Linked DNA regions of Homo sapiens: regions 2, 3 and 4 are each linked to region 1. The links come from fine-mapping of genetic effects on gene expression. A gene starts in region 1. Each other region holds a variant in brackets. All regions are shown on one strand. Distances are between the middles of the regions.

Region 1 (5,000 bases):
GAGATGGAGGTTGCAGTGAGCCGAGATTGCCCTACTGCATTCCAGCCTGGGCGACAGAGCGAGACTCCGTCTCAAAAAAAAAAAAAAAAAAAAAAAAGGAAAAAAAAGACAAGCCCTTGCAAAACCAGGTCCAAACTAGCAAGATGGGGAGGCCACCAAAGTGTGGACCTAAGGGGTCCCAGCTACAGTAGCTGTGCTGGATGACGCTCCTGTGCTTGCAGGGGGCACTTACATGTGCCTACATTATATAATCTATCATCCTGTGTGCTGAGTTCTATCTACAGCTAGACTGGGAACTAAGGGCAGAAACTGTGCCTTATTAATCTTTGTAACCCAGCAGAGTGCTTTATGAGTGTACTGGTTGAATGAGTAAGAAGGAGGATGTCTTGGGCTTGTATGTATAATATTCCTAGGAGTTTGGGGTATAGCTGCACAGCTTACTGGAACGAAGGATGACTAACCAGGTAAGGATGCAGACTCTCTCTCCTACCATACTGGCAAAGTTAAAAGTAAGCCACAGAAAAAAAATCATTTGGGAAACTCACTCAGAGACAGACCAACTAATCGTTCATGTCCAGTTTCTTTTGACTCTTATCCCTTTCTTCCCTGCTCCCTTTACCCTATTTCCTTCTTTCTCTCTTAATGTTTTTTGTTTGTTTGTGAGACAGAGTCTCGCTCTGTCGCCCAGGCTGGAGTGCAGTGGGCACGATCTTGGCTCACTGCAACCTCTGCCTCCAGGGTTTAAGCGATTCTTCTGCCTCAGCCTCCCGAGTAGCTGGGACTACAGGCACCCGCCACCACACTCGGCTAATTTTTGTATTTTTAGTAGAGACGGGGTTTCACCATAGTAGCCATGATGGTCTCGAACTCCTGACTTCGTGATCCGCCCTCCTTGGCCTCCCAGAGGGCCTCCCAGAGTGTTGGGATTACAGGCATGAGCCACTGCAGCCTGTTTTGTTTTTTTTTTTTTGTTCGTTTGTTTGTTTGTTTTTGTTCTGTTTTTTTTGAGACGGAGTTTCGCTCTTGTTGCCCAGGCTGGAGTGCAATGGCGCCATCTCAACTCACCGCAACCTCCACCTCCCGGGTTCCAGCGATTTTCCTGTCTCAGCCTCCCGAGTAGCTGGGACCACAGGCACCCACCACTACGCCTGGCTAATTTTGTATTTTTAGTAGAGACGAGGTTTCTCCACGTTGGTAAGACTGGTCTCGAACCCCCGACCTCAGGTGATCCGCCCGCCTCGGCCTCCCAAAGTGCTGGGATTACAGGCGTGAACCACCGCGCCCGACCTAATTTTTGTATTTTTAGTAGAGATGGGTTTTCGCCATGTTGGACAGGTTGGTCTCAAACTCCTGACCTCAGATGATCCTCCCGCTGTGGCCCCCCAAAGTGTTAGGATTACAGGCGTGAGCCACCGCGCCCGGCCTCTGTTAATGTTTCTTAAGAAAACAAAAAAATTAGGGGTATTGATTTTGTAGCTGCGCTAAGTAACCTTTGCTTTTTGCGTCCCTTGGTCTCAGTCCTAGCCATTTCCTATCCACCCTGTGGCTAATTTGTCCTTTCTGTAACAGACACCCTAGACTGTGTCTATGCGGTTGGGCAGAGGCGTGATGGGTAAACACTCCTGGCGGGAGACTACAGGCGCTGCAGCTACATCCTGTTTCGTACTGGGAGCAGGTGCCGCCCCGCGGAACACTTACTTGCCCCGCCCTGCGGTGGAGCAGGGCGGTCTCAGCCGCCGGAACCGCCCTGGAAGCCCGCCCCAATCCTGGGCGTCGCTTCGCTGTGAGTGCCGCTGCCACGGATTGGCTTCCAGGGTCCGGCCCGTCGGCCAATCAGGCGCGGGGGCGTTGTCTGGGGGCGGGGCTCCGGCCGCCTCTGACGAGTCCCGGATTTACCAGGGCCGGTGGGATCCCCTCGGGCTCCCGCCTTAGCATGCTGGCCGGGACATCTGGTGAACATGGCCTCTGCTACTGCGGCAGCAGCACGACGGGGCCTCGGCCGGGCTCTCCCTCTCTTCTGGCGTGGCTACCAGACCGAGCGGGGCGTTTACGGCTACCGGCCGAGGAAGCCCGAGAGCCGCGAGCCCCAGGGCGCCCTGGAGCGCCCCCCAGGTCGGGGATGGGGCCCGGGCGGTGGGAGCGGGGGCTGGGACGCAGAAGCCTCCCCTGGCCGATTTGCGGTGGGGTGTCGGGGTCGGGGAACCGGCTGCCGGCCTGAACGCGCGGCCGGTGGGGAGGAGGGGGAGGTGAGGGGAGCAGAGGGTAGGTGTGGGTGCTCAGTGTTGGGGTCATCCCCCGTCCATCCTCTGTAACTGAGGATCTTTGAGGTCCACGCTTGGGTGGTCTTCCCATCTTGCTGGTCCGGACCTGGTTTCGGAAGGGCTTTTCTTTCCTTTGTTGGAAACGTGTGAGAAACTCTTTTTTTCTTTCTCTTTTTGTTTCCTTTTTTTTTTTTTTTTTTTTTTGAGACGGAGTCTCGCTCTGTGGCCCAGGCTGGAGTGCAGTGCTGCGACCACAGCTCCCTGCAGCCTCGAACTCCTGGGCTCAGGCTATCCTTCCACCTCAGCGTCCCGAGTAGCTGGGGACACAGAGGGATGACCACGCCCAGCTTTTTTTTTTTTTTTTTTTTTTTTTTCATTTTTAGTAGAGATGGGGTCCCACCATGTTGCCCAGGCTGGTCTTGAACTCTTGAGCTCAAGCTGATCCTGCAGCCTCGGCCTCCCAATGTGTTGGGATTACAGGCTGAGCCACTGCACCCAGCCTAGAAAACCAGCTCTTTAATGAGGCGGAGCTGTGGGAGAAGTAAAGTTTTAAGGTCTCCCAAGGATACATTTCCAGGACCATCTCTGAGGCTTCTTTTATGTGAGCAGGTGGGGGGGTCCAAGACTGCATTGCTTGGGAGAAGTGGGCAGTTAGTTCCAGTCTTGGAAGACAGCATGATATTTATTATGTATTTGTCTCCTTGTAGCTAGTCTGTTACTTTAATTTCAGAGTTTAACTCTTAACTCTGCTGAATTTGGAACTATGTGCTGGTGGGGTTTCTTTCTTTTCCTTTTAGCCACTCTATTGACACCTTGATATGTGCTGGTGGTTTTAATGAATTAACAGTCATGAATATCAGCTTTTGGAACTTCTGTTGCATGCTCATTTGCGAGACTAATTTTGAGTATTTGGTTTACGCTCCAAAATTATTGTATCATTATTTATCCTCACGGAGTAGAAGATAAGTACAGATTGCTTATTAGAGGAAAATCATTTGGCATCTTTGATCTGATCATTAGATTAATGTTGAAGATCCCCTTCGGCATCTGGGCACCTGACCTTGGAATGTTCCATCAATCACACACTAGAACTTCAATATTTTGCTCTTCACTTCGGAGGGCATTTAAAATAAACCTCATATCTCTGTCTCTCTCTCTTTTTTTAATCCTAAAATGGAGTCTGGCTTTGTCGCCCAGGCTGGAGTGCAGTGGCACGATCTTGGCTCACTGCAACCTCTGTCTTCTGGGTTCAAGCGATTGTCCTGCCCCAGTGTTCCGAGTAGCTGGGATTACAGGCACCTGCCACCATGCCCAGCTAATTTTTGTATTTTTAGTAGAGATGGGGTTTCACCATGTTGGCCAGGCTGGTCTTGAACTCCCGACCTGAAGTGATCCACTGGCCTTGGCCTCCTAAAGTGCTGGGATTACAGGCATGAGCCACCGTGCCTGGCCAAGAGGGAACCTCCTTTTTGCAGAGCCGAATTCCCCTTCCTGTCTACTTGCTCATTAGGGAGCTCCAACTTGACCTCATCTTTCTTCTTGGGCCTTCCTGAAAGTGACAAGATACAATGAACATACGCTCCTGAGCTACAGGCTTCAAGGGCATGTAGTCTGCCTCAGTCCTGTCCTACAGGACAAAAACCAAATGTTTTGTCCTGTAGCATAACACTGCCCATCAGCTTTCTAGGTGGAAATACCTGTGTCCTTGGTACCCATTGCCTGGCTGCTAATCCAATGCCATATATATTTTTAGGCTCTGTTAGGGCAGCAACCCACCTCTGGTACCAAATTCTGTATTAGATTGGAAGAGTTCAGGTGCTGTGATATACAAAGAGAAGGGATATCTTCTTTCCTTCCCCTTACGGTCATGACCCAGAAGTTGCATACATTGCTGCTACGTTCCCATTGTCCAAAACTTAGTCACATGGCCACCAGGTTATGGGGAAGGCTGGGAGGTGGCTCTTTGTTCTGGGTGGCCATATACTGGGCTCTCTATTACTATCAAAGAGAGGGTTCAGAATGGAAGTTAGGAATCGTAGCAGTCTCTGCCACAGAGGTATAGTAATCTGAGATGAGCAATCCACCTTTATCTTTTTCACCTCATATTTCACATCAAATCTTTTTAGTTTTTATTTTTTAAATTTTATTTATTAGGCCGGGCGCGGTGGCTCATGCCTGTAATCCCTGCACTTTGGGAGGCCGAGGTGGGCGGATCACCAGGTCAGGAGTTCAAAACTAGCCTGGCCAACATGGTGAAACCTCGTCTCTAGCAAAAATACAAAAATTAGCTGGGTGTGGTGCAGACGTGGGGCCAGGCACAGTGACTCACGCCTGTAATCCCCGCACTTTGGGAGGCCGAGACAGACAGATCACTTGAGACAGGGTCTTGCCATGTTGCCCAGGCTGGTCTCGAACTCCTGTCCTCAGGTGAAATGCTTGCCTCGGCCCCCTAAAGTGTTGGGATTATAGGCGCGAGCCACCGTGTCCAGCCCCAAATAATTTATACTTCCTAAGGAATGAAAAGAGGGTTCTATATACGCAATTTATTTGTGACATATAGTACATTTGCATTTTGTATGTGCAAACGTAACATTAATTATCAAGTATCTTTATATGTTAGGCAACATATTAAACTATTACCGTGTTTTATTTTTATTTTTTGAGATGAGATCTTTCTATGTCACCTAGTCTGGAGTGCAGTGGTGCAGTCACAGCTCACTTCAGCGTGCGCCGGGTTCA
Region 2 (8,193 bases), 52 kb after region 1:
CTGGTCTCAAACTCCTGACCTCAGGTGATCCGCCCACCTTGGCCTCCCAAAGTGCTGGGATTACAGGCATGAGCCACGGCACCTTTTTTTTTTTTTTTTTTTTTTTTAATAGAGGCAAGGCACCAGTGGGGATGGTGGAGTAGGGGGTGCAAAGGGAGTCTCGCTATGTTGCCCAGGCGGGTCTTGAACTGGCCTCCAGCGATCCTCCTGCCTTGGCCTCCCAAAGTGTTAAGATTCCAAAAGGCTATCTTATGTAACCTCAGAAACATAGTTTTACCCTGAAGTATACAGAACTGATATTTTTTGGCAAGGCATTGCGTCTATTAGGACATGGGTCTCCTTGCAGTGCTAGGCTAGAACTTTGGTACTCGTGTTTGATAGCGGCCCTTGTAAGTGACAGCATCACCTCTTTCTGTTGCTTGCTGGATGTGTGGCCTCTTCTCCCTCGTAGGCAGCCGTGTCAACTCTTCAAGAAATGGCACCAGGAACAACATTTAACCCGGTCATTGGTGATTCATCTGTGGATCCAAAAAAGTAAGATATGTATCTCTGTTTTCATATTCTGTGGCAGAATTTTAATTAATGGGAAAAGTAGTTCACATTAAGAGATCACAGGTGATGCAGATCTCCCCTCTCCTATTTTTATTTATTTATTTATTTATTTATTTATTTATTTATTTATTTTTGAGACTGAGTCTGGCTCTATTGCCCAGGCTGGAGGGCAGTGGTGCAATCTCAGCTCTATGCAACCTCCGCCTCCCGGATTCAAGTGATTCTTGTGCTTCAGCCTCCCAAGTAGCTGGGATTACAGGTGCCCGCCACCACACCCTGCTAATTTTTTTATTTTTAGTAGAGATGGGGTTTCACCATGTTGGCCAGGCTGGTCTCGAACTCCTGACCTCAGGTTATCCACCCACCTCAGCCTCTGAAAGTGCTGGGATTGCAGGCGTGAGCCACCATGCCTGGCCTCCTCTATCCTAAGTCCTTTAAGTCAGTGGAGTATGAGTTAAGTGTGGGTGGGAAAGTGGACTTTGTAGGCGCATGTTGCTGAAGAAGGGTCCCCAGGAATAGCCTGTGACTGAACTCGGCTGCAGAGACCCCCACCACCTTGTTCATGAGGACTTTAAATCTGCACTGTCTCCCGTTTCTTCTGACATAATTCTCTTTTTTTTTTTTTTTGAGGTTGAGTCTTGCTCTGTCGCCCAGGCTGGAGTGCAGTGGCACGATCTTGGCTCACTGCAAGCTCCGCCTCCCGGGTTCACGCCATTCTCCTGCCTTAGCCTCCCGAGTAGCTGGGACTACAGGTGCCCGCCAGTACGCCCGGCTAATTTTTTGTATTTTTAGTAGAGACAGGGTTTCACCGTGTTAGCCAGGATGGTCTTGATTTCCTGACCTCGTGATCCGCCCGCCTTGGCCTCCCAAAGTGCTGAGATTACAGGCGTGAGCTACTGCACCTGGCCTCTTCTGACGTAATTCTTACTTTAAAAAATTTCTCCCCCACCCTATTGTTCCTTTTCTGTCCAACAGGGTTAAGACCCTCGTGTTCTGCTCCGGCAAACATTTCTACTCCCTGGTGAAACAAAGAGAATCTCTGGGGGCCAAGAAGCATGACTTTGCCATCATCCGAGTAGAGGAACTCTGCCCCTTCCCGTTGGATTCTTTACAGCAAGAGATGAGCAAATACAAACATGTTAAAGGTAAGAGGTTGTTCTCATTTGGGTTTTGATGTTCAGATACCCAAAACCCATTTCAGCTCTTTTAAATGAAAAGATGTGGTGGGGGTTATTAGAAAATTGAATCTTGGGCCGGGCGCGGTGGCTCACACCTGTAATCCTGGCACTTTGGGAAGCTGAGGTGGGTGGATCACAAGGTCAGGAGATTGAGACCATCCTGGCTAACACGGTGAACCCCCGTCTCTACTAAAAGTACAAAAAATTAGCCGGGCGTGGTGGCGGGCGCCTGTAGTCCCAGCTCCTTGGGAGCCTGAGGCAGAAGAATTGCTTGAACCTGGGAGACGGAGGTTGCAGTGAGCCGAGATTGTGCCACTGCACTCCAGCCTGGGCACAAGACTCTGTGTCAAAAAAAGACACAAAAACATGAAAATTTGGTACAGGCGGGGCGCGGTGCCTCACGCCTGTAGTCCCAGCACTTTGGGAGGCCGAGGTGGGCGGATCACGAGGTCAGGAGATCAAGACCATCCTGGCTAACACAGTGAAACCCCGTCTCTACTGAAAATACAAAAAAATTAGCCGGGCGTGGTGGCGGGCGCCTGTAGTCCCAGCTACTTGGGAGGCTGACGCAGGAGAATGGCGTGAACCCGGGAGGCGGAGCTTGCAGTGAGCCGAGATTGCGCTACTGCACTCCAGCCTGGGCGACAGAGCGAGACTCCGTCTCAAAAAAAAAAAAAAAAAAAAGAAAGAAAATTTGGTACATATATGGGGCCTGTCCGAGGGTCATGGGGGAGGAGGGAGAGCATCAGGCAGAACAGCTAATGGATGCTGGGTTAATACCTAGGTGATGGATGATCTGAGGAGCAAACCTCCGTGGCACACATTTACCTGCATAACAAACCTGCACATCCTGCATGTGTACCCCAGAACTTAAAAAAGAAAAAAGAAAATGCATTGAATACACCTAAACTACAAAACACAGCTTAGCCTAGCCTGCCTTAAACATGCTCAGAACACTCACATTAGCTTATCGTTGGGCACAATCATTTAACACAAAATCTATTACATTTCATAATGAAGTGTTGAATATCTCAGATAATTTATCGAATACTGTACCAACAGTGAAAAACAGAACTGTTGTATGGGTACTTGAAGTACAGTTTCTAGTGAATGTGAATCCCTTTCACACCATCGTAAAGTTGAAAACTCCATCGTAGGTGGGATCATAGTAAATTGGGGACCGTCTGCATGTGTCTACTTGAGGTGCTGAAAGAATTTCTTCTCTCATAGATCATATTTGGAGTCAGGAGGAACCTCAGAACATGGGTCCGTGGTCGTTTGTTTCTCCAAGGTTTGAAAAGCAGCTGGCCTGCAAGGTAATCACACGTTTTCTCTGGTAGTGTTTTGTGTTTTGTGTGCATGTTGTTTTTCTTTTCTTTCTTTCTTTCTTTTTTTTTTTTGAGACAGAGTCTCACTCTGTTGCCCAGGCTGGAGTGCAGTGGCGCAATCTCAGCTCACTGCAAGCTCCGCCCCCCGGGTTCACGCCATTCTCCTGCCTCAGCCTCCCAAGTAGCTGGGACTACAGGCGCCCGCCACCACACCCAGCTAAATTTTTTTTGTATTTTTAGTAGAGACGGGGTTTCACCATGTTAGCCAGGATAGTCTCAATCTCCTGACCTCGTGATCCGCCCACCTCGGCCTCCCAAAGCGCTGGGATTACAGGCATTGAGGCACGGAGCCCTGTCCCTCTAATCTCTTCTGCGTAACTCATTATTTGAAAGAGGTGATTTATGGTTAAACAAGCTAAGAGAAATACATGCACTGTCTTGTTGGAACTAAGCAGAGCTCTGATCTAGTCAAAATGTCATTTTATTTCTTCTCTGCTGCACTTATAGCTCCGTCTGGTGGGCCGGCCCCCTTTGCCAGTACCCGCTGTAGGAATTGGCACAGTTCACTTGCACCAGCATGAAGATATCCTCGCCAAGACCTTCGCTTGATGATGACTTTTGAAGAAACACTATTTCTCTTTAAGAAAATGGCCATTAAGGCCGGGTGGGGTGGCACATGCCTGTAATCCCAGCACTTTGGGAGGCCAAGGCTGGTGGATCACCTGAGGTCAGGAGTTCGAGACCAGCCTGGCCAACACGGTGAAACCCCGCCTCTACTAAAAATACAAAAAATAGCCGGGTGTGGTGGTGGGCACCTGTGATCCCAGCTTCCTGGGAGGCTGAGGCAAGAGAATCGCTTGAATCTGGGAGGCGGAGGTTGCAGTGAGCCAGGATCACACCATTGCTGTCCAGCCTGGGTGACAGAGCAAGACTGCGTTTCAAAAAAAAAAAAAAAAAAACCCATTAAAAGAGGCCTCCTTCCTCCACTCTCTCAACCCCTCTGTTGGGTAACATGAAAAGACTGTATTCCTCTAAGATGTTGGGATTGATATACGTGATTTAATCTGCAATAGGTGGAATAACCAGGGGAACTGGTTATGAATATGTGAATGCAACCAGCAAATTTATCCTTGAAGGTGTGATGGTAGAAATAGGAAAACAACAAAAGAAAAACAATAACAAAAAAAGAAAGTGTGATGGCTGGGTGCAGTGGCTCACGCCTGTAATCCCAGCACTTTGGGAGGCTTAGGCGGCTGGATCACCTGAGGTCAGGAGTTCAAGACCAGCCTGGTCAACGTGGTGAAACGCCGTTTCTACTAAAAATATGAAAATTAGTTGGGTGTGGTGGCATGCGCTTGTAGTCTCAGCTACTCCGGAGGCTGAGGCAGGAGAATTGCTTGAACCTGGAAGGCAGAGGTTGCAGTGAGCCGAAATGGCGCCACTGTACTCCAACCTGGGCGACAGAGCAAGACTCCATCTCATAAATTAAAAGGAAAGTATGATAGTGTTATGGATTTTAGCTCTGAGTGAGCTGGAAAACTAGGTCATTATCTAGATGATTTCAGACTTGACCCTAATTGACCATATATGACCAGGAAACACTTCTGAGTTTACAGCTCCGTGGAGATGACCTCAACACTGCCTCTTGATTTGTTTGATGCATGTCACTTTCATTAATTTTCCCCCTCCTTTTTGAAAGTCCTGTGGCAGTACTAATATTTTCATTTTATGTAATCTCTGGTGCTGCTTTCCAGTCACTGTATGAAGTGTCTCCCCAACACTAGCAAATCTAGGTCCTACTAAATACAAATCTCTGGGTGGATGATCTTCTAGTACTGTATTTTTAAATTAAGGAGTTTTAGTTATAATGAAATTGATTTGTAGTCTGTTTTGCCGTAAACTTGTTTTTCTTTAAATTGTTCTTACAGTGATATCTTACTATTTTTAACTGTCTGGGGTTTCTGATATGGGGATTTCAGCCCCTGGTTAATCAGTCTTGTCCCTACAAGTCCCTGATGCAGTATGTTTATTTGTGATGTTTAAAGAACATTTCTTGGCTGGGCGCTGCGGCTTGCGCCTGTAATCTCAGCACTTTGGGAGGCTGAGATGGGTGGATCACCTGAGGTTGGGAGTTCGAGACCAGCCTGACAAAACATAGTGAAACCCCGTCTCTACTAAAAATACAAAAATTAGCTGGGCGTGGTGGTGGGTGTCTGTAATCCCAGCTATTCGGGAGGCTGAGGCAGGAGAATCGCTTGAACCCAGGAGGTGGAGGTTGCAGTGAGCTGAGATCCTGCCACTGCACTCCAGTCTGGGTGACAGAGCAAGACTCCATCTCAAAAAATAAATAAATAGAAAGAGAGAGAGAGGAAAAAAAAAGAAAAGAACACTTCTTTATTTGAGGGACTTTCCCAACACCAGGTGCTTGGGGATTTCTTAGAGATCACCAACCGACTCCCTCACTGTGAAATTAAACCAAGTACTGGAAACGTAACTAAACAGCGAACCATGTAGCTTCACCTGACTCAGTGCTGGGGGCCTCTACCATCTACTGTGCTTGTGTCATGATGCTTTTTCTCTGAAGTGGTGTGGGAAGTACCAGGGGACTGGCAGAAGCCCAGGCCCTCTCTACTTTTACCAGCAACTGATCATGTCTTTCAGAATCCATGTACATATAGGCTGTTCTAGCCACAGTGGTAGATTTATGATTCACATCCGAAAGTGTGCCTTAGTTATCAATTTAACATTTCTCTAGTATTCATATCCCTTTTCTTACCATATACCTCAGTGTATCCTTCCTGTGTCAAGCCTTATAAATCATGTAATTTAGTGCCACTCATGTAAATCAGTAAAATCACAAAGGTCTATTTAATGAAAACGATTTACCAATGTTGTTTTTTTTTAACAAGAAAAAAAATAAAAGCACATTGTCATTTTTTTTCCTCAGGACTCCTGGACTTCTTGAATTAAAAGATTTCAAAAGTCTAAGCACAAAAATGAGATGGAAGATTAGATCTTTGTAAAAGGTTAGTTTAGGCTGGGCGTGGTAGCTCACGCCTGTAATCACAGCACTGTGGGAGGTCAAGATGGGTGCATCACCTGAGGTCAGGCATTCGAGACTAGCCTGGCCAACATGGCTAAACCCCGTCTCTTACTAAAAATATAAAAATTAGCAGGGCATG[G/A]TGGTGCATGCCTGTAATCCCAGCTACTTGGGAGGCTGAGGCAGGAGAATCACTTGATCTCGGGAGGCGGAGGTTGCAGTGAGCCGAGATTGCACCACTGTACTCCAGCCTGGGTGACAGAGCGGGACTCTGTCTCAAAAAATAAAAGGTTACTTTAAATCTCTCCGAATTTCTTTTGAGACAGAGTCTCACTTTGTCGCCCAGGCTGGAGTGGTGCGATCTCAGCTCACTGCAACCTCCACCTCCTGGGTTCAAAAGATTTTCCTGCCTCAGCCTCCCGAGTAGCTGGGACTACAGGTACGTGCCACAGCCAGTTTTTTGTATTTTTAGCAGAGATGGCGTTTCACCATGTTAGCTAGGATGGCCTTGATCTCCTGACCTCATGATCCGCCCACCTTGGCCTCCCAAAGTGCTGGGTTTACAGGCGTGAGCCACTGTGACTGGTGGATCTCTCCAAATTTCTAATTTTACACCTCACAGTCTGTTCATGGTTTCTTTTTATGTCTTCTCTAACTCGAGTCATGAAATGTGTCTTCTGTTGGCTTAACCTTTCTACTCTCAATCACTACTGCAACATGGATCAGCATTTTACATTCCCTTGCAGGGAGGGACCATTTGAGGAATTCCAAATCAAATACTCATTACTTTTTTTCCCTTAAAAATTTAGTAGGCCAGGCGTGGTGGCTCATGCTTGTAATCCCGGCACTTTGGGAGGCTAAGGTGGGCAGATCACCTGAGGTCAGGAGTTTGAGACCAGTGTGGCCAACCTGGTGAAAGCCTGTTTCTACTAAAAAATACAAAGATCAGCCAGGCGTTGTTGCGCATGCTTGTAGTCCCAGCTACTTGAGAGGCTGAGGCAGGAAATCACTTGAACTACTCCAGCATGGGCAACAGAGCAAGACTCCATCTCAAAAAAAAAAAAAAAAAGTGTAAAAGGGATAGTATTTTTATTGTCAACCAAGGAATTATTAAAAAATAATAAAATTTCAAAGGTAATATAGTCAGTCTAAAGATGTCTAAGCTTCATAGTATTTTTCCCAAATAGCATGTGTATGCAAGACACAGAAAAGCTAAGCAAAATAGTTATTATTCTCACTAAAAAATTTTTTATTTTACTAAGAATAATTTGTCATTTCAGACAAAACTAACATTTTTCCATGGTTGCTACTATTTCTACTTCTTGAATACCCAATTTAAGGTTTAGTCCTCATTGAACATTAAAATGGCATAGATAGATATAAATAATAGATATAAATAAGATACAAGTATAAAGTTACTAAGGTTTTCTTTTTTTCTTTTGAGACCAAATCTCGCTCTGTGGCCCAGGCTGGAGGGCAGTGGTGCGATCCTGGCTCACTGCAACCTCCGCCTTTCTAGTTCAAGTGATTCTGTGTCAGCGTTAGGCCGCTTTGGCCTCTTAAAGTGCTGAGATTACAGGCGTGAGCCACCACACCTGGCCCTTTTACAAAATTGAAGAAATGAAAGGGTTACCCCGCCCAAAAAAAAAAAAAAAAAGATTACACTGGAAGGAAGTCACAGATTAAGGATCAAGACTGTTGAGTCTTTAGGTTCCAAAAGCTTCACCTACATTTTTCTTATATGTATTTGGATATTAAAGAAAATAAGTTACATATACACCATGGAATATTATTCAGCCATTTAAAAAAAATAAAATCTTGTCATTTGTAGCAACATGGATGGAACTGGAAGTCATCATGTTACGTGAAGTAAGTCAAGCACAGAAAGACAAAACTTGGATATTCTCACTCACATGGGAGCTTAAAAAGTGGATTTTGGCCAGGCGCGGTAGCTCATGCCTGTAATCCCAGCCCCTTGGGAGGCCAAGGCGGGTGGATCACCTGAGCTCAGGAGTTTGAGACCAGCCTGGCCAAGAGGGTGAAACCCTGTCTCTACTAAAAATACAAAAAATTAGCCGGGCGTGGTAGCGGATGC
Region 3 (5,000 bases), 74 kb after region 1:
GATTTCCTGACCTCATGATCCACCCATCTCGACCTCCCAAAGTGCTGGGATTACAGGTGTGAGCCACCACTCCCAGCTGTTTTTGTTTTGTTTTTTGAGATGGAGTCTTGTTTTGTCGCCCAGGCTGGAGTTCAGTGGCACGATGTCTGCTCACTGCAACCTCTGCCTCCCAGGTTCAAGCGATTCTCCTACCTCCGCCTCCTGAGTAGCTGGGATTACAGGCACGAGCCGCCACTCCCTGCTAATTTTTGTATTTTTAGTAGAGATGGGGTTTCACCATGTCGGCCAGGCTGGTCTTGAACTCCTAGCCTCAAGTGATGTGCCCACGTTGGACTCCCAAGATACTGGTGTTACAGGCCTGAGCCATCGTGCCTGGCCCTCACCTCTCACTTTAAATGAAGAGTGTCTACAGCTGCCAGGTGCACATAAAATATCCATGTTTCATGCTTTACCAGTTTTATTACCCAGCTGATAAATTCAGACTTTCAGGGAGGTTTAGGTTGACCAGGTGAGTTGTTTAAAATTGCTGCCAGCATCTTTTGTAACTTTCTTAAAAATCAGTTTCATATAGAGAAGGTTTTTGAAATGTCTTTGTCTAATCCCCACATGGTTAAGGAGGGGTTAAGGCCAAGTGCTGTATCCTAAATATGGGTTATATAATAGGAAGCAATCTGAACTTAAGTTGTTTTTTGTTGTTGTTTTAATGAAAAGTTAATGTCCTCATTATGGAAAATTTGATACATATGAAAAGAATACAGAAGAAAAAGTCAACCATAATCCCACCATCTACAGATAATTGCTGTTTAGGATTTAAAAAGATATCTCCTCCTAGTTTGATTTTCTGTGCATCTATTTACAGTGTCATAGTTTATATATACACTTTCGTACTTCGTTTTTATACTAGGGCTTCTTAACAGTCGCACTCCTGAATTTGAGGTAGGATGATTCCTTGCCCCAGGGGTCTGTCCTGTGTATTTCAGGATGTTCAGCAGCACTCTGGCCTCTACTAGCCATCACCCCCTGTTCTGTGAAAGGGCCATATATGCAAAATGACCCGCAAACACTGAAGGAGCTGCGAAACCAATGAATGAGGGAGACAAATCCAGTTTGTCAGTAGAGGGTGATTTTACAGACAGAAGCATAGTTTGGGGCAGCAGTAAGACAGGGAAAGGCCTGCATTCTTACTCCCAGACCCAGGGCTAATCTATCATAGGGAAGGGGTGTATGTGCTTTGTGCAGGACAGTTGAAGGCAGCTTTCCAGAACATGCAAGAATGCTGTGTGTCACAGCCTGTTATTTGTGTAATAGCATCAACGTTGCTTGGATCTCAGGGCAGGATTTATGGCGAGTACATGTTCTTACACTAAGGACTGTAAATAAAGCAGGAATCAGGAGGTATCCCTGAGACCAGGGTTGAGCAGAAGTCAACATGGTAGATTAGCATCCAAGATGGAGTCACTTTGGTCTCCACCTTGGCCCCTAGTTGTGGCAACCAAAAATGTCTCTAGATATTGCCAAATGTCTTGGGTGGGGGCTAAAATCACCCCTAGTTTAGAACTGCTATTTTATATTTAGTTTTATGACATAAGTACTTCTTCCATGTTATTACAGATTGAGTAAGCATAATTTTTAGTGGCCATGTAATATTCCATTGTGGATATCATCTTCAGTCTTACATTGAGAAGAGTGACCTTGGCTGTCTTTAGTATATAGAGCTTTGCAAAATCATTCTACGACCAGGCAGGTATAATATTCCATAATCTACTGGTGGGAGTGTTTTTTAAATTGTGGTAAAAGTATAGAAAATATGCCATCTTCATCATTTTTAGATGTGCAGTTTAGTAACATTAGGAATGTTCACATTGTTGTACCACCACACTCCATAAGCGATGTATTTACTAGTGAATGCACCAAGTGATGATTTGTTGTTTTTATTTTTATTTTCACTTTCTGGTTCTTTTAATTATTTTTTTTATTAACCCTTATCTATGTGATGGAATGTTTTTCTTTTTATTTTCTTTTTAATAAACAGCTTTACCTTGAAGATATGCTTGTTTTTGTTGAAGAACATAAGAATAGTTTTTAAAAAAGTATTGCAAGCAGTAAGTGAATACCTTGTAAATTAAGTGCACACTTTATACTTTTTTTTTTTGAGACAGAGTCTCCTGTCACCCAGGCTGGAGTGCAGTGGCGTGATCTCAGCTCACTGCAGCCTTTGCCTCCTGGGTTCAAGCGATTCTTATGCCTCAGCCTTATATAATACAGTTTCATAAACTATTTTGTGTACTATTTTAGATCCCACTGTTTGGAATCATGTCATCAGATTCTGCAGATCCTTTCTACTGGATGAGAGTTATTCTGGCTTCCAATAGAGGTATGCGTGTCTTTTCTGTCTCCACACTCCTACTCACAGCAAACAGATGGAAACATGTGGATTAGCAATGAGTTTTCAATGTCTACAGGGAGGGGGAGGATATCATTGCCTAGAAAAGCCTAGTATGTAGATAATGACAACACCGTGTGATTAATGTAATCATAGAGAAATCTGTTCTTGGGTTTTCATGGACTGGAAAACCCTGATCTTCAGTGTCAAAGAAGGTGATGTCCAGATAACATTGGAATTGGAGTCCAGGTGGGGCGCCGTGGCTCACCCCTGTAATCCCAGCACTTTGGGAGGCCAAGGTGGGCAGATCACCTGAGGTCAGGAGTTTGAGACCAGCCTGGCCAACATGGTGAAACCCCGTCTCTACTAAAAATAGAAAAATTAGCCAGGTGTGGG[T/A]ATGCACCTGTAATCCCAGCTACTCAGGAGGCTGAGGTAAGAGAATCGCTTGAACCTGGGAGATGGAGGTTGCAGTGAACTAAGATCGCACCACTGCAATCCAGCCTGGGTAACAGAGTAAGACTCTGCCTCCAAAAAAAAAGGGAGTCCAGTGTGTGAGCCAATCGGGGAGCTCAGCTGGAGCTGAGCCTGAAGCCTCAAGCAGCATTGTTCATCTGGGAAATTGTGGCTGAGGATGCTGGACAGTGAGAGTAGCAAGGGGTACAACCAGTCGTGAGGTTTCTTACATTTAGGAACAGTGGTTGCCTCTTTTTTGGAAACACTTTTTTCAGGCGATCCTCCCACTTCAGCCTCCTGAGTAGCTGGGACTACTGGTGCGTGCCACAATGCCTGGCTAATTTTTGTAGTTTTGTAGAGGTGAGGTTTTGCCATGTTGCCTAGGCTGGTCTTGAACTCCTGGGTTCATGCCATCCTCCCTCAAAGTGCTGGGATTACAGGTGTGAGCCACTGCACCCAGCCTGGACATACTTTAAATCGATGGCAGATTTTTTTTTGATGTTTTTAGGTTATAAAGGTAATATTGATTTATTATTTTAAAAATGCACTAGCAATTTATATACAGATTTATATGAAGCTGAAAAGAAAAGTGTCACTTCTGAGGGGAGCTCTGGAGGATTTGGTAGATTGGTGACTATCAATTGAGGCCTTTTCTTTGCACATACATTCACTTACATATATCTATATACTTCTTATAACTGAAAAGTAAGATGTCCTGTATATACTATTCTGCTACTTTGTTTACTTAATATCTTACATGAGCTATTAATGGCCATGTTATTATTCCATTATAAGGATACGCTGTGATTTATTTGATCATTCATTCAACAAATACTTACTGAGTTCATATTGTGTGTCAGCCTTTGTGCAAGGTGCCGAGATTAGAGCAGTGAACAAGACAATGTCCCAGTTGTCATGGAGTTGATATTTGCTGTTTGGGGAGGTACCTGGGGTGGGGAAGGTGCTCTAGGAAGGTGATCTTTGAAGACAGCTGCAGGAAGTGAGAGAGGAGGCCACATGAAGACCTGAGGGAGGCATATTCTAGGGAAGAGCCAGTGCAAAGGCCCTGAGGTGAGCCTGTGCTTGGTGTGTTCAAAGATCATTGAGGAGGGGCCAGGCGCAGGGGCTCATGCCTGTGATCCCAACACTTTGGGAGGCTGAAGCGGGAAGATCACTTGAGGTCAGGAGTCCAGACCAGCCTAGGCAACAAAGTGAGACCCCATCTCTACTAAAATCACAAAAATTAGCCAGGTGTGGTCGTGTGTACTGTGGTCCCAGCTACTTGGGAGGCTGAGGTGGGAGGATGGCTTGAGCCTGGGAGGAAGAGATTGCAGTGAGCCGAGATCACGCCACTGCACTCTAGCCGGGGCGACACAACCAGACCCTGTCTCAAAAAAAAAAGGAACATTGAGGAGGTGAGTGTGGGGTGGAAGAAATGAAAGAAGAGGGAGGAGTGATGGGACCTGATGTTGCAGATGTATCTAAGTCAGATCATGAAGGGCTTGGAGACCGTTGGATGGAGCACATTTTAAGGAAGATGGGAAACTTCTGCAGGCCACTAGGTTCCTTTCTTGTCATATATTACGTTTTTTTCCCCCCGATTTTATATCATTATAAAGAATGCTACAATGAAGGCTATCACACCGTTCTGTAACTTTTTGATAGAATGAATTTCTAGAAGTTCAACTGTTGGGTCACAAGATAGGCATACTGAAATTTTTGATAGAGAAAGCTAAATTATCTTCCAAAACAGTTGTTTGATTTTACACTCTCAGCGACAGTATATGAGAATGACCATTTCTCTTTCAACAGTGGATATTATTAGTATTTTAGTCTTTGTTAGTCAGAGAGGTAAAAGCTGGCATCAGTTATTTAATTTTGATTTCTTTATAGATTGGTGAGTTTGAACATTGTTTTCTGTTTTTATGGAACATTTGTATTTCTTCTATAAGTGGAGTTTTATTAGTGTGTTAGATTCCTTTTGTTGTAAGTAATAGGAAACTAGATGCTTTCGTAGTCCGTAGATGTGATGATTGGATCTTCACGCTCGTGTGTGAGATGTGCCTCTCTCCAGCCTTGTTAGGATGTTGGAACATTACCCATCTGACATGAAAAGAAAAAAGAAAAAACATTGTTTTAAATAAAGGAGAAAAATTAAGGAATA
Region 4 (5,000 bases), 88 kb after region 1:
AATCGTACCCTTTCTCCTGCCCATTGAAACTCAGACTAAAAGCCTGTAAATAGACAAGTTAGGCTCTGTCCAACTACTGAAATGGCAGTTAAGGAGAAAAACAACACTGTGTAAGGTAAGCATGCCTAAAATGGTCTCATGTGGTTACTTTGGTCGCTCTTCCAGCAGGTGATATTGGATAAAGTGAGTACAAAATGAGGGTGGGCGGCTTGAGAGCTGGGAGGAATGGAAGTGACTTCCTCACTTCTGCCGGAGGGTGTCTTTAAAGTGGGGACATGTGTGAGGTTGGGGGCATGGAAGCATATTTTCTTCCTGTCTTGATTAGGTTATTTGAGTGCAGGGAAGGGGTCATATGACTGAGGAGGTCACTTGAAGGGCTAGGGACTGTTTTTAATTAATGCATACTTTTACAGGAATGTCTTCTCCAAGAAGCAAGTTCAGAATTTTCAATATCCCATAAATTAAAGTCAGTATGCTTTCATTTTTAAAAACAATATGAGCTTAACCTTAACCGTCTTCAAATTTACATTCAATCTTTGTCACTATGTGTATAGAATGCATTTTTACATTGCTGCTCGAGTACGTATTTGAGTACATATTTGTGTTCTAGTTTTTTATTCTGTACACATTTTATAGAGTATACATATATATAATATATATAATGCTTTTTTCAAAGGATCAACACAGCCCTTAGACTTATCCTTTGATGGCAGTGTACATTTCCATCTTGCTATTATACCAGAATTCATCTGACTTTTTACTTCCTTGGAGGTATTTGGGATGTTTTCAGTTTCTTGCTGTCATAAATTCTAGAATACTGTGATCATTTTTTGTTTCAGTGTGCTTTTCAAACAGGCTTTATTTAAACATTGCAAAAGAAACTATTCAGATAAGTGTAAATAGACTTTAAAAGTTGAAATGTCTGCTTTATAATACAACAGTATTTCCAGTCCTCTTACTGTTCTAGATTGGCCTGAGTAAATGAAAGCAGGCCAAAAGATGCAGTTGGTCATCACAGTGAGATTGCAACGATCAGGCCTTAATATTCAAAACGCCCCTAGCTTGGAAATAGCCAATGGTGTTCCTCTCCCCCTTTCTTGAGTTTGTTCTTGCTTCCGCTTACTTGCATTTCTTTCCCCACAGTTGTTTGTTGCTGGTTTGATTGTGCTGCTGTTAGATGAGCTGCTACAGAAGGGTTACGGCTTGGGGTCTGGGATTTCCCTCTTTATTGCCACCAACATCTGTGAGACCATTGTCTGGAAGGCCTTTAGTCCCACTACCATTAACACTGGCAGAGGTACATCGCACAGCGACTGCAACTGCACGCGTTTTGCTGGATGTGTGCTGGGAACAAACCCATCGTGTCGCAGTACATGCCTAGAGCCGTTCTGGTTTGCTCTCCTAGGGGATAAGGAATGCGAATTCTTCAAAACTTAATGAGCAGAGATTTGTGGAGTAAGCAATACTACCTCAGAGAGAATAGTATCAAAATTTTAGCCTCTGCTTATTTAAAATTTCAGTGGTTGCAAACAGATTTTCAAAATTTCTTTTGTTAACCTTGCTTAAGGCATTGCTGCAGAAGTCATTTATTTGACTGATTTCAGCATCCGTAGGGGGATAAAAAGGTAGTGGATTTTAGATTTTTCAAATGAAAAGACTGTTGTTCATTGAATCCACCTGGAGCACTCCTACTCTGCTGCTCTTCTAATTGGCTTTGTAATAGCACCAAAGTTTTGAAATATTTCATTCTCTCTTTCCCCTTCCTCATCTCCACTTCTAACAGATACTGTCCTAAGTGGTTAATACCTAAACTCTGATCCCAGCCTTAAGAAAACTGTAATGATGATTAATGTTCTTGGTGCGGTAAACTTCGAGGCAGGCTCGATAGAGTGACATCTGTCTCTTATTCTGACATCTCTGCTCTGCTTCGCTGCTGTTTATTTTTCCTAAAAACACTCTCTCCCTTCCCTGAAGTAGAGGAGAGGCAAATCTCTATGAATGAAATTTTGCTTTGGTAAATTTTACGTTGTATGTTTTCTTCAAGAATAGTCTCTTGAGAAAACTTCGGATTTATGCTATAAAAACATAGATTTGCCTCAATGATCTAAATATTTGTAGAACCTGCTCACATGGCTATATCATAAAGCAAACATTGGCGAATTCTTTTGACCCATATTTTCTGCTGTATACTGGACTTTCACGGTTAGTTGTTTGAGCTTTGGGACAGCTTTGGACGATGAGTCCACAGGTCGTGTCTGTCTTGATTTTACAGGTACTGAGTTTGAGGGTGCAGTCATAGCTCTGTTCCATTTGTTGGCCACCAGGACGGACAAAGTCCGAGCTTTACGGGAGGCTTTTTATCGGCAGAACTTACCCAATCTCATGAACCTCATTGCTACAGTTTTTGTGTTTGCTGTTGTTATATATTTCCAAGTAAGTATAACCTTTTCACCAAAGTAAGTGGGATGTAGATTTTTATTTTGCTCTTAAAGAGAATGCCATCTGACATGCTGTTGTTTAACAAGTCAGGGTTTAAGATCAAGGGAAATAAAATTTTGCAATTAGAGTCTCCAGACTCTGATTTTAAGGTGTGAAATATTGGAGTCTCTGTACTTTTTTTGTTTTTTGTTTTGACCCATCAGCAGGAAGCAGACTCTCGACAGTTTAAAAGGCAGAACGTCTTTGTTAGCATTGTCTTTTCTTTTCTTTTTTTTTCCTGAGACGGAGTTTTGCTCTTGTTGCCCAGGCTGGAGTGCAGTGGCGCGATCTTAGCTCACTCTAACCTCCTCTTCCCGAGTTCAAGTGATTCTCCTGCCTCAGCTTCCTGAGTAGCTGAGATGACAGGCACGTGCCA[C/T]CACGCCCGGCTAATTTTTTTTTTTTTTTTTTTGAGATGGAGTCTTGCTCTGTCGCCAGGCTGGAGTGCAATGGCGCAATCCCGGCTAACTGCAACCTCCGCCTCCTGGGTTCAAGCGATTCTCCTGTCTCAGCCTCCTGAGTAGCTGGGACTACAGGTGCATATCACCACACCCAGCTAATTTTTTGTATTTTAGTAGAGATGAGATTTCACCACGTTGGCCAGGATGGTCTCGATCTCCTGACCTCGTGATCTGCCCGCCTCGGCCTCCCAAAGTGTTGGGATTACAGGCCTGAGCCCCTGTGCCCGGCCGGCATTGTCTTTTCATCCCCCGCACTGTTCTTTGTTTTCCCTCTCTGGTCTCTGTTCTTTTCTTAATGTGTCTGGCTCCCCCACTTACTCTCCGTTTCCTTTTTTAGGGATTTCGCGTTGATCTGCCCATTAAGTCGGCCCGTTACCGAGGACAGTACAGCAGCTACCCCATCAAACTCTTCTACACCTCCAACATCCCCATCATCCTCCAGTCGGCCCTGGTGTCCAACCTGTATGTTATTTCCCAGATGCTGTCTGTTCGATTTAGTGGCAACTTTTTAGTAAATTTACTAGGACAGTGGGCCGTGAGTATTATGTTTATTTACATTATTTATAGTTTATTATAATTTGCATTTCATGGTTGTATTTTTAATGGAATGAGGTCGACATTGGAGCATTTGCTGTATTTTCAGATTCACTTACCTATATAGCAGAGTTTAGTACTTATCTGGAAGAACTGGTAAGTGTTGCAGAAGTAAGATTGCCCAAGCGCTTTTTATTATTTTGCTCTCTAGGAAGCACTTTCACATCTCATTTGAATGACCTTTTAAGCTAAAATTGTGGTTGATTTCATAAAAGTAATTTCCTATTTTGTCATCTTATTCCAGTATTGTCTACAATAATGCTTTCTAAAAGATGCTATTTGCTGGCTGGGTGCGGTGGCTCACTCCTGTAATCCCAGGACTTTGGGAGGCTGAGGTGGGTGGATCACCTGAGGTCAGGAGTTCGAGACCAGCCTGGCCACATGGTGAAACCCCGTCTCCACTAAAAATACAAAAATTAGCCAGGTGTGGTGGCAGGTGCTTGTAGTCCCAACCATTCAGGAGGTCAAGTCAGGAGAATTGCTGGAACCCAGGAGATGGAGGTTGCTGTGAGCTGAGATCACGCCACTGCACTCCAGCCTGGGCGACAGAACGAGACTCCGTCTCCAAAAAATAAAAACAAAAAATGCTATTTGCTGCTGCTAACATGTGAGATACTGGACTCATCCTAACCTTTCCTATCTCCCACCCTGCCTCCAGGCCTCCTCCATTTTTCATGGTCTGAATGGCAATAAGCCAGCTTGTGATGAGCTGGGCTAGAGATAGGCATGCTATTAACTAGACGGTAGAGACAGCGGTGCTGCTAGTAATATAATCCTATACATTCTCATATACATCCCCCATCATAATTTTTTTTTCTTTTTTTTTTTTTTGAGACGGAGTCTCGCTGTGTCGCCCAGGCTGGAGTGCAGTGGTACGATCTCGGCTCACTGCAAGCTCCGCCTCCCGGGTTCATGCCATTCTCCTGCCTCAGCCTCCCAAGTAGCTGGGACTACAGGCGCCCGCCACCACGCCCAGCTAATTTTTTGTATTTTTAGTAGAGACGGGGTTTAACTGTGTTAGCCAGGATGGTCTCGATCTCCTGACCTTGTGATCTGCCCGACTCAGCCTCCCAAATTGCTGGGATTACAGGCGTGAGCCACCACACTCGGCCCATAATTTTTTCTAAAGCCATCTAGCCACGCTGTTATTGAAGCGTGAGTTACTGTGGGACTGAATTTTCATTGGTTTAAATTCTGTCACCTAACAAAGGGGTATTTTCCCTCTTAAAATTATAGATTTTAGCCAGGCGTGTTGGCTCTCATCTGTAATCCCAGCACTTTGGGAGAACAAGGAGAGAGGATAGCTTGAAGGCCAGGAGTTGGAGACCTGTCTGGGCAACATAGCGAGACCCCATCTCTACAAAAAAACTTAAAAACTAGCCGGGCACAGTGTTACGTGCCTGTAGTCCTAGCTACTTGGGAGGCTGAGTTGGGAGGATTGCTTGAGCCCAGGAGTTTGAAGGTACAGTG

The links. PIP is the estimated chance that this variant, and not a neighbour inherited with it, causes the effect.
Region 2: its variant is the best candidate, but not a certain one, in a credible set for the expression of DHTKD1 in monocytes (BLUEPRINT, PIP 0.68).
Region 3: its variant is the best candidate, but not a certain one, in a credible set for the expression of DHTKD1 in whole blood (INTERVAL, PIP 0.61).
Region 4: its variant is the best candidate, but not a certain one, in a credible set for the expression of DHTKD1 in whole blood (TOPMed, PIP 0.87).

What each region holds. Positions count from the first base shown.
Region 1 is chr10:12,067,076-12,072,075 of GRCh38, forward strand. It overlaps DHTKD1 (dehydrogenase E1 and transketolase domain containing 1), which reads left to right and starts at 1,879. Exons shown (of 17, transcript NM_018706.7): 1 at 1,879-2,112. The coding sequence starts at 1,959. RefSeq lists silencers at 1,905-1,954, 2,055-2,214.
Region 2 is chr10:12,117,222-12,125,414 of GRCh38, forward strand. DHTKD1 (dehydrogenase E1 and transketolase domain containing 1) reads left to right here. Exons shown (of 17, transcript NM_018706.7): 14 at 452-534; 15 at 1,528-1,697; 16 at 2,961-3,046; 17 at 3,566-6,000. The coding sequence ends at 3,667. Among named protein-coding and RNA genes, the nearest start is that of SEC61A2, 8.4 kb to the right of the region's middle. RefSeq lists enhancers at 4,418-4,557, 4,618-4,667, 5,408-5,497. The variant G/A (reference allele first, on the strand shown) is at 6,241.
Region 3 is chr10:12,140,822-12,145,821 of GRCh38, forward strand. SEC61A2 (SEC61 translocon subunit alpha 2) reads left to right here. Exons shown (of 12, transcript NM_018144.4): 4 at 2,296-2,374. It overlaps LOC124902579 (small nucleolar RNA U13), which reads left to right and starts at 4,842; the gene lies at 4,842-4,945. The variant T/A (reference allele first, on the strand shown) is at 2,780.
Region 4 is chr10:12,154,635-12,159,634 of GRCh38, forward strand. It overlaps SEC61A2 (SEC61 translocon subunit alpha 2), which reads left to right. Exons shown (of 12, transcript NM_018144.4): 7 at 1,144-1,297; 8 at 2,273-2,433; 9 at 3,274-3,471. Among named protein-coding and RNA genes, the nearest start is that of MIR548AK, 26 kb to the left of the region's middle. The variant C/T (reference allele first, on the strand shown) is at 2,855.